Homo sapiens: one gene and its partner. The protein of the gene in region 1 purifies or fractionates together with the protein of each later gene. This does not show direct contact. Each region holds a gene or a part of one and is shown in the gene's direction. Other genes may lie near its edges.

The links. The genes of interacting proteins can lie anywhere in the genome.
Region 2: the proteins of CSE1L (region 1) and SMYD3 fractionate together in Homo sapiens (co-fractionation; one large-scale study listed by BioGRID). This does not show direct contact.

What each region holds. Positions count from the first base shown.
Region 1 is NC_000020.11:49,087,812-49,091,311, forward strand, and holds part of CSE1L (exportin-2), read left to right. Parts: intron 1-197; coding exon 198-295; intron 296-1,435; coding exon 1,436-1,586; intron 1,587-1,726; coding exon 1,727-1,935; intron 1,936-2,930; coding exon 2,931-3,028; intron 3,029-3,125; coding exon 3,126-3,211; intron 3,212-3,500. UniProt on the Homo sapiens protein: Export receptor for importin-alpha. Mediates importin-alpha re-export from the nucleus to the cytoplasm after import substrates (cargos) have been released into the nucleoplasm.
Region 2 is NC_000001.11:245,748,847-245,752,063, reverse strand, and holds the end of SMYD3 (histone-lysine N-methyltransferase SMYD3), read left to right. Parts: intron 1-2,399; coding exon 2,400-2,501; 3' UTR 2,502-2,717; downstream 2,718-3,217. UniProt on the Homo sapiens protein: Histone methyltransferase. Specifically methylates 'Lys-4' of histone H3, inducing di- and tri-methylation, but not monomethylation. Also methylates 'Lys-5' of histone H4.

The sequences.
Region 1 (3,500 bases):
AATTTTGTTGCCAACCCGTCCTAATTTTAAAAGGAAGGGAAATTTAGATTATTTTTAAATGTAGAGAGCTATCTCGGGGTTGTCTAAGCATCTTAAAATTTAGTTGATGAATTAGTGCGCTTTTTTCCCCCCAGTCGCTCTCTTATTCTGAAGTTTAACTAAACTCTATTTGTTTTTGCTGTTTTTGTATTTTACAGCTATCATGAGAAGTTTTTCTCTCCTACAAGAAGCCATAATCCCCTACATCCCTACTCTCATCACTCAGCTTACACAGAAGCTATTAGCTGTTAGTAAGGTAATAGAGCCAATTTTGAAAGTGGGGTTCCTTTTTTATTTGCTCCAAACTGTTTGGGCCTCAGAACTCTTTGGCATTACGTGAAGCTTTAGAGAAGGTCTGTGAATTCTTCCTGACCAGCCACTAATGGACTTTTCTGAAAGTGTGGGCATGCTGTTAGATTGGAGACGTAATAGCAGTCACCTTTAAGTGTGTGCTAGAAGCTTGAATACATTTTCATTCTCATTACAAAAGTAACATGTTTATTGTAGAAAAAGAAAGTGCAGATGATCCAAAATTACCTTAAATGGAGTTAAGTAGGCTTTGCACTAAATGGATATAAAAGAGGCTGTCTGGACTTCTATGAAATGATGATTAAAATCCTTTGTGTTGTCTTTTCTTCCTTACTCTTATTTCTCAAAAGGAAAGTTCACTCTGATCAAAATTTTACAGATACTTAGATTCATGTTTATTAACACTAAATTTTAGAAAATAAATCCGTTTAAGGCTGACAGAATTCCTTTTTAGATGCTATTCTTGATCTTATGAGAATTAGATCAATTCATAGGAAGTGTTGGAGGGATTTTGGAGAACAGAGTGATTATTATTCAACTGAGTTAGGGCTAAGGGTCTTTGGACTACTTAGGGCCTTGAGGGATGGAGCGGGGAGGGAACCCAAGTCTCCGCCTCCCATATGTATTACCATCTCATGTTCTGATTGAGTTAGATTTGTATGCTAGTAGCCTTCCAAGAACTTGTTTAAAGAAAAATGGGGTTTTGTTGCTTAAAAAGAACATAAAAAACTACTCATTTGGGGGATTATCAGTAAGTAGACATAGACATTGAGGCCCACAGAAGTTAAGGCTAGTGGCATTACTAGGACTTAGTATTTCTTCTCTGCGAGGGCACGTGGGCTTAAGACAAGTTACAGCTCTGGGATCTGAGGTTTGTATAAGCAACTCTGTAACTCTGAAGTATTTTTTTCATGGTGGACTTTGGGCCATTTAAAAAAAAATTCAAATGAACAAGCACTAGGGTATAATTGGTGTTTTTTTCTTAATTTTGATTTTTAAAAAATAAGATGGCCTCTATTTTAAATGTGTTTTATAAAGGTTAGGTGTGGATTATTAGCATAATTAGGTTTTTTTTTTTTAATTTCAGAACCCAAGCAAACCTCACTTTAATCACTACATGTTTGAAGCAATATGTTTATCCATAAGAATAACTTGCAAAGCTAACCCTGCTGCTGTTGTAAATTTTGAGGAGGCTTTGTTTTTGGTGTTTACTGAAATCTTACAAAATGATGTGCAAGGTAAGTTAACGGAAATTATTTTCTTTGTAATGGAATAAAATTAACATGGCTATAAAATGCAGCCCACCTAAGCGATGTGGGCCTTTTGTGTCAGTCATTCCTTCTGAAGCTCACAGCTCTGTTTTTACTTTTATCAACAGAATTTATTCCATACGTCTTTCAAGTGATGTCTTTGCTTCTGGAAACACACAAAAATGACATCCCGTCTTCCTATATGGCCTTATTTCCTCATCTCCTTCAGCCAGTGCTTTGGGAAAGAACAGGAAATATTCCTGCTCTAGTGAGGCTTCTTCAAGCATTCTTAGAACGCGGTTCAAACACAATAGCAAGTGCTGCAGCTGACAAAATTGTGCGTCAGGTTTTGATATAACTGTAATTTTATAAAGTAGCTTGGAGAAACTGGGGATGGCAGATGTTTGAAATTTTTTTATTTAAAATAAATTTAAGGCTGGGGGCAGTGGCTCAAGCCCACCACTTTGGGAGCCTCTAGTGGGAGGATCCCTTGAGCCGAGGAGTTTAAGACCAGCCTAGGCAACGTGGTGAGATCTATCTCTACAAAGGAAAAAAAAGCTTTTTAATTAGTTGGACACAGTGGAGCATGCCTGTGGTCCCATCTACTTGGGAGGCTAAGGTGAGAGGGTCGCTTGAGCCCAGGAGTTTAAGGCTGCAGTGAGCCATGATCTCACCATTGCACTCCATCCTGGGCAACAGAGCTAGACCCTGTCTCTTAAAAAAAATAATAATAATAATAACGGAAATAATTAGTAGAAAATGTTATGGTATGTTTTATCAGAATTCTGTATCCTTTAGTTATTTATATCCATGATGGAAAATTTTAAAAACAGAGCCAAACAGGTTGATTTTAAGAACTTAACTTTGGTCGGGCGTGGTGGCTCACACCTGTAATCTCAGCACTTTGGGAGGCCGAGGTGGGCAGATCACCTGAGGTCAGGAGTTCAAGACCAGCCTGGCCAACATGGCGAAACCCCGTCTCTACTAAAAATAAAAATTAGGTGGGTGTGGTGGCACGTGCCTGTAATCCCAGCTACTCAGAAGGCTGAGGCAGGAGAATCGCTTGAACCTGGGAAGCAGAGGTTGCAGTGAGCCAAGATCGCCCCATTGCACTCTAGCCTGGGCAACAAGAGTGAAACTCCGTCTCAAAGAAAAAAAAAATTACTTTAATGGCTACGCGGGAGGAATTGTTCCCCATATGTTTCAGAAATAATTAAAGAGAAAAGGATAGATTATTACAGTATGAACTCTGTTTTAAGACATATATCATGTTTAACTTTTCGAATAATTATTCCTGTTAACCATTTTCTGTTGGATCTCATTTCTTAACAGCCTGGGTTACTAGGTGTCTTTCAGAAGCTGATTGCATCCAAAGCAAATGACCACCAAGGTTTTTATCTTCTAAACAGTATAATAGAGCACATGCCTCCGTGAGTATGACTAGAACTTTGTGCATTTATTTAGAAATTTTGTTAGGTGCTCAGAAAAGTCCTAAATTTATATTGTTGATTTTTTTTAATTCTTTAGTGAATCAGTTGACCAATATAGGAAACAAATCTTCATTCTGCTATTCCAGAGACTTCAGAATTCCAAAACAACCAAGTTTATCAAGAGTAAGTAAAATCATCTGGATGTTCTACAGAAGTAATGAAAGAAGGTAGCTAAAACCCTTAGACTTTATGGTTGCAGATACATTTTTTATCCGTTTTAAACTTTATGCAAAAAATACTTGGCCACGTGTGGAGGTTCATGCCTGTAATCGCAGCACTTTGGGTGGCCAAGGGAGGCCGATCGCTTGAGCTCAGGAGTTCAAGACCAGCCTGGGCAACATGGCGAAACCCTGTCCCTACGAAAAGTACAACAAAATTAGCCAGGCATGGTGGCATGTGCCTGTAGTCGCAG
Region 2 (3,217 bases), on another chromosome or scaffold:
CTGCCTCAGACCTCAAGATGTCCAGAGCAGCGGAGGATCCAGGGCAGTGTGGAGAAAAGAGAATAAAACACGAGGCATGTGCTCCATGAATGCCATCAAACATTTGTTTTTAATCTTCTGCCCAGGGGAATCTCATAGAGCTGGGCTGCTTGCAAGGTGGGGGCTGGTCCCAACTCCTCCCCTGCACTCCGGACAGCCCCCTGCCTAGGGATTTGCTGGCAGATGCTGTGCACCCACAGAGCAGACTTGCTCGCATGAATAGGAAGTCAATTCCCACCGCCAGCATCTCAGCTCCAGCCACCTTCTGGGCTTTGCAGCTGGAGTGTCACAGGGTGAGGGGCCAGACTGCCAGTGCGGGGTCACAACTGGACTCAGAGCAGAGCTGTCTTCCAGGCTGAGAGGCCAGGGTCTGAGGCGCTGGCCCTTTCTCTCTCTCTCTCTTTTTCTCTCTCTCTTTCTCTCTCTCTCTTTCTCTCTCTCTCTCTTTCTCTTTCTCTCTGTCTCTCTGTCTCTCTCTCTCTTTCTCTCTCTTTCTCTCTCTCTCAGCAGCAAATCTAGACCCCCTCTGTCTGCCTGTTTTCCTTCCAGCCTAAAGGGAACATTCAAGAGGTGAAAAAAGAAGCCAGAAACAGAGGTTGAAATTACCCATCCCCCTGAAATGCTTTGTTTCTCGAAGCTTCAGCGTTTTTCCAACGTAGAATGGAAAGTTTTCCTGCATGCAGAATTGCAAAATGCAGGCGTCTCACCACATGACCACCAAGGTCTGAAATCTCTGTGGTTTTCAAGATGTTCATGCTCAAGAATTCCACCCCTAGCAATTGCTCTTAAATATCCAAGAAAGGCAAAAAATCTATTCTGGAAGGTCTGCATCATATCCTAATAAACAATTGGAGGTGATCTAAATTTCCAGGAGTAGCTTAGTAAATAATGGTTTATAAGCATGATGGCATTCATTATATACAACAATTAAAATGGTAATTCTTCTGGCTATAAATTAACACTGAATCATGAGTAGTTGATGTTATTTGTTGAGAGTTTGCTCTATCAGTTGTTTTCAACCTTGAGAACATGTTGGAATCTCCTGGGGCCTAGGCCTCATTCCTGGAGAGCAGGCTTCAGCTGTTGATGTGCAGGGTCTGGCCCTCGGTGTCTCTTTTGAAGCTCCCTGGTTGATCCTGCTGTGTAGCTAAGGCTGAGAGCCTCAGTGCCACTTCCAGGTACTTTGGGTGCATAACAGCCACCAGAGTCATATCTTTACAAGTCTCCTGGGCACATTTACATCAAATGCAGTGGTTCTGGTGTCCCTCCCTTCTCCCCAGTCCACCCCACCCCACCCCACCCCCCCATTTGGGCAGGGCAGGATAATATTGCTTATCTCTTATTTATTACAAAAATATTTTCAAGGATACTCTGGTTGTTTGTTGTTCCATAACCATCCCAAAACTGAATGGAGTAAACAACGGCAAAATTATTGCACAAATGCTGTGTGTCAGGAATTGGCACACAGCATAAGAATGGCTTTCTTCTTTTCTACAATGTCTGGTGTTTCATCTGGGAAGACAGATCTGGCAGTCTTCAGCTGGGTGCTGGAATCGTCTGAAGGTTTATTTATGTACATGTCTGGTGCCTTGTCTAGAATGACTTGAAAGATGAGCTTGGCTAAGACTGCCAGCCAGAGTGCCTGTACACGGCCTCCCTCTATGTGGCTTGGGCTTCCTTGCAGCATGGAGTCTCTTGGTTCTGGGAGCAAACATACTGACCAGTAAACAACACAGAGGCCTTTTTGACCTAGTCTCACAAGTCAGTTGCTTTACTTCTATTATACTCTATTATTGAAGTACTCATAAGCCCACACAGATTTCAGAAATATTTTGAAGATAAGAGTTGACAAGATTTAATAATGGACCAAATATGAGCAGTGAAGGAGAGGACTGTTGAAATGCCAGTGCTATAATATGATATGAAAAAAAATGTGAGAATACATGTATATAATAATCCTGGTGCATATAGATGAGAATTGAATGGAGTGTGCAATAAAGAAAAATTTTAAGGTGGTAGCAGCATGGTCTTTCATATGACTCAATCATTTTGGTAACTCTTCTTATCCCTGTGACTACCCACCAAACCTGTGCACTGACAGTCTTTGAAGATCATCGATTGTCACTGGGCCCCAGCATGACTCGAATAGTGAGTCTGCTTTCCAAATACCACATTCAGAAATCACCCTTTTCATGTGACTTTCCAGCTGGGAGAACCACAGTGCTGTAAGCCTGTTAAAGACTGTTCACCCTGTAAACCTGTGGGGTTCACCAGGCCCCTGGCATCATGGGGTAAAGGTGGGGAATGGCCTGAGCTCACCTATTTTGGGGTCTAATCTCTCTTCCGTCCTTTCTCTTTAGGCTTTTGATATTATGAGAGTGACACATGGCAGAGAACACAGCCTGATTGAAGATTTGATTCTACTTTTAGAAGAATGCGACGCCAACATCAGAGCATCCTAAGGGAACGCAGTCAGAGGGAAATACGGCGTGTGTCTTTGTTGAATGCCTTATTGAGGTCACACACTCTATGCTTTGTTAGCTGTGTGAACCTCTCCTATTGGAAATTCTGTTCCGTGTTTGTGTAGGTAAATAAAGGCAGACATGGTTTGCAAACCACAAGAATCATTAGTTGTAGAGAAGCACGATTATAATAAATTCAAAACATTTGGTTGAGGATGCCATCTGGTAATTGTCTTATTTGCTTACTCATTGGCGATTTTAATGTTTAAAATACCAACATTCAAGACAGAAAATCATATTAAAAGCATGACAAATAAGTTATAACTTTCTCTTTGGATATATGTAGGGATAATTAGATAAAAGTCACTATTTTCACATTTGCTTCCAAGCAAAAACTTAATGTCCATTTTGGCAAGAAGCAGAATTTTGAGATGTCATCTTTTGCTCTTTGTGATAAATGATGTTTGTGTTTGTTATTTACTTCCAAATACTTCTCCAACACAAGAAGTTTTATCCTAAATGCTAGGAAGAAGCCATTTTAGATATTACTAGAAAAGGATAGGAAGTCTTAATGCCAAAAACCAGTTTTTCGAATGTCTCACAGCTCTTTGTGTAAACCTTTCTCATCAGCATTTTATAACTCCTTGTGTATGTCTTTTTTTTTTCCTTGAAATTTTTTCTGTAATTAGCCAAATGTGTGGTTCAGCATGTGAGTG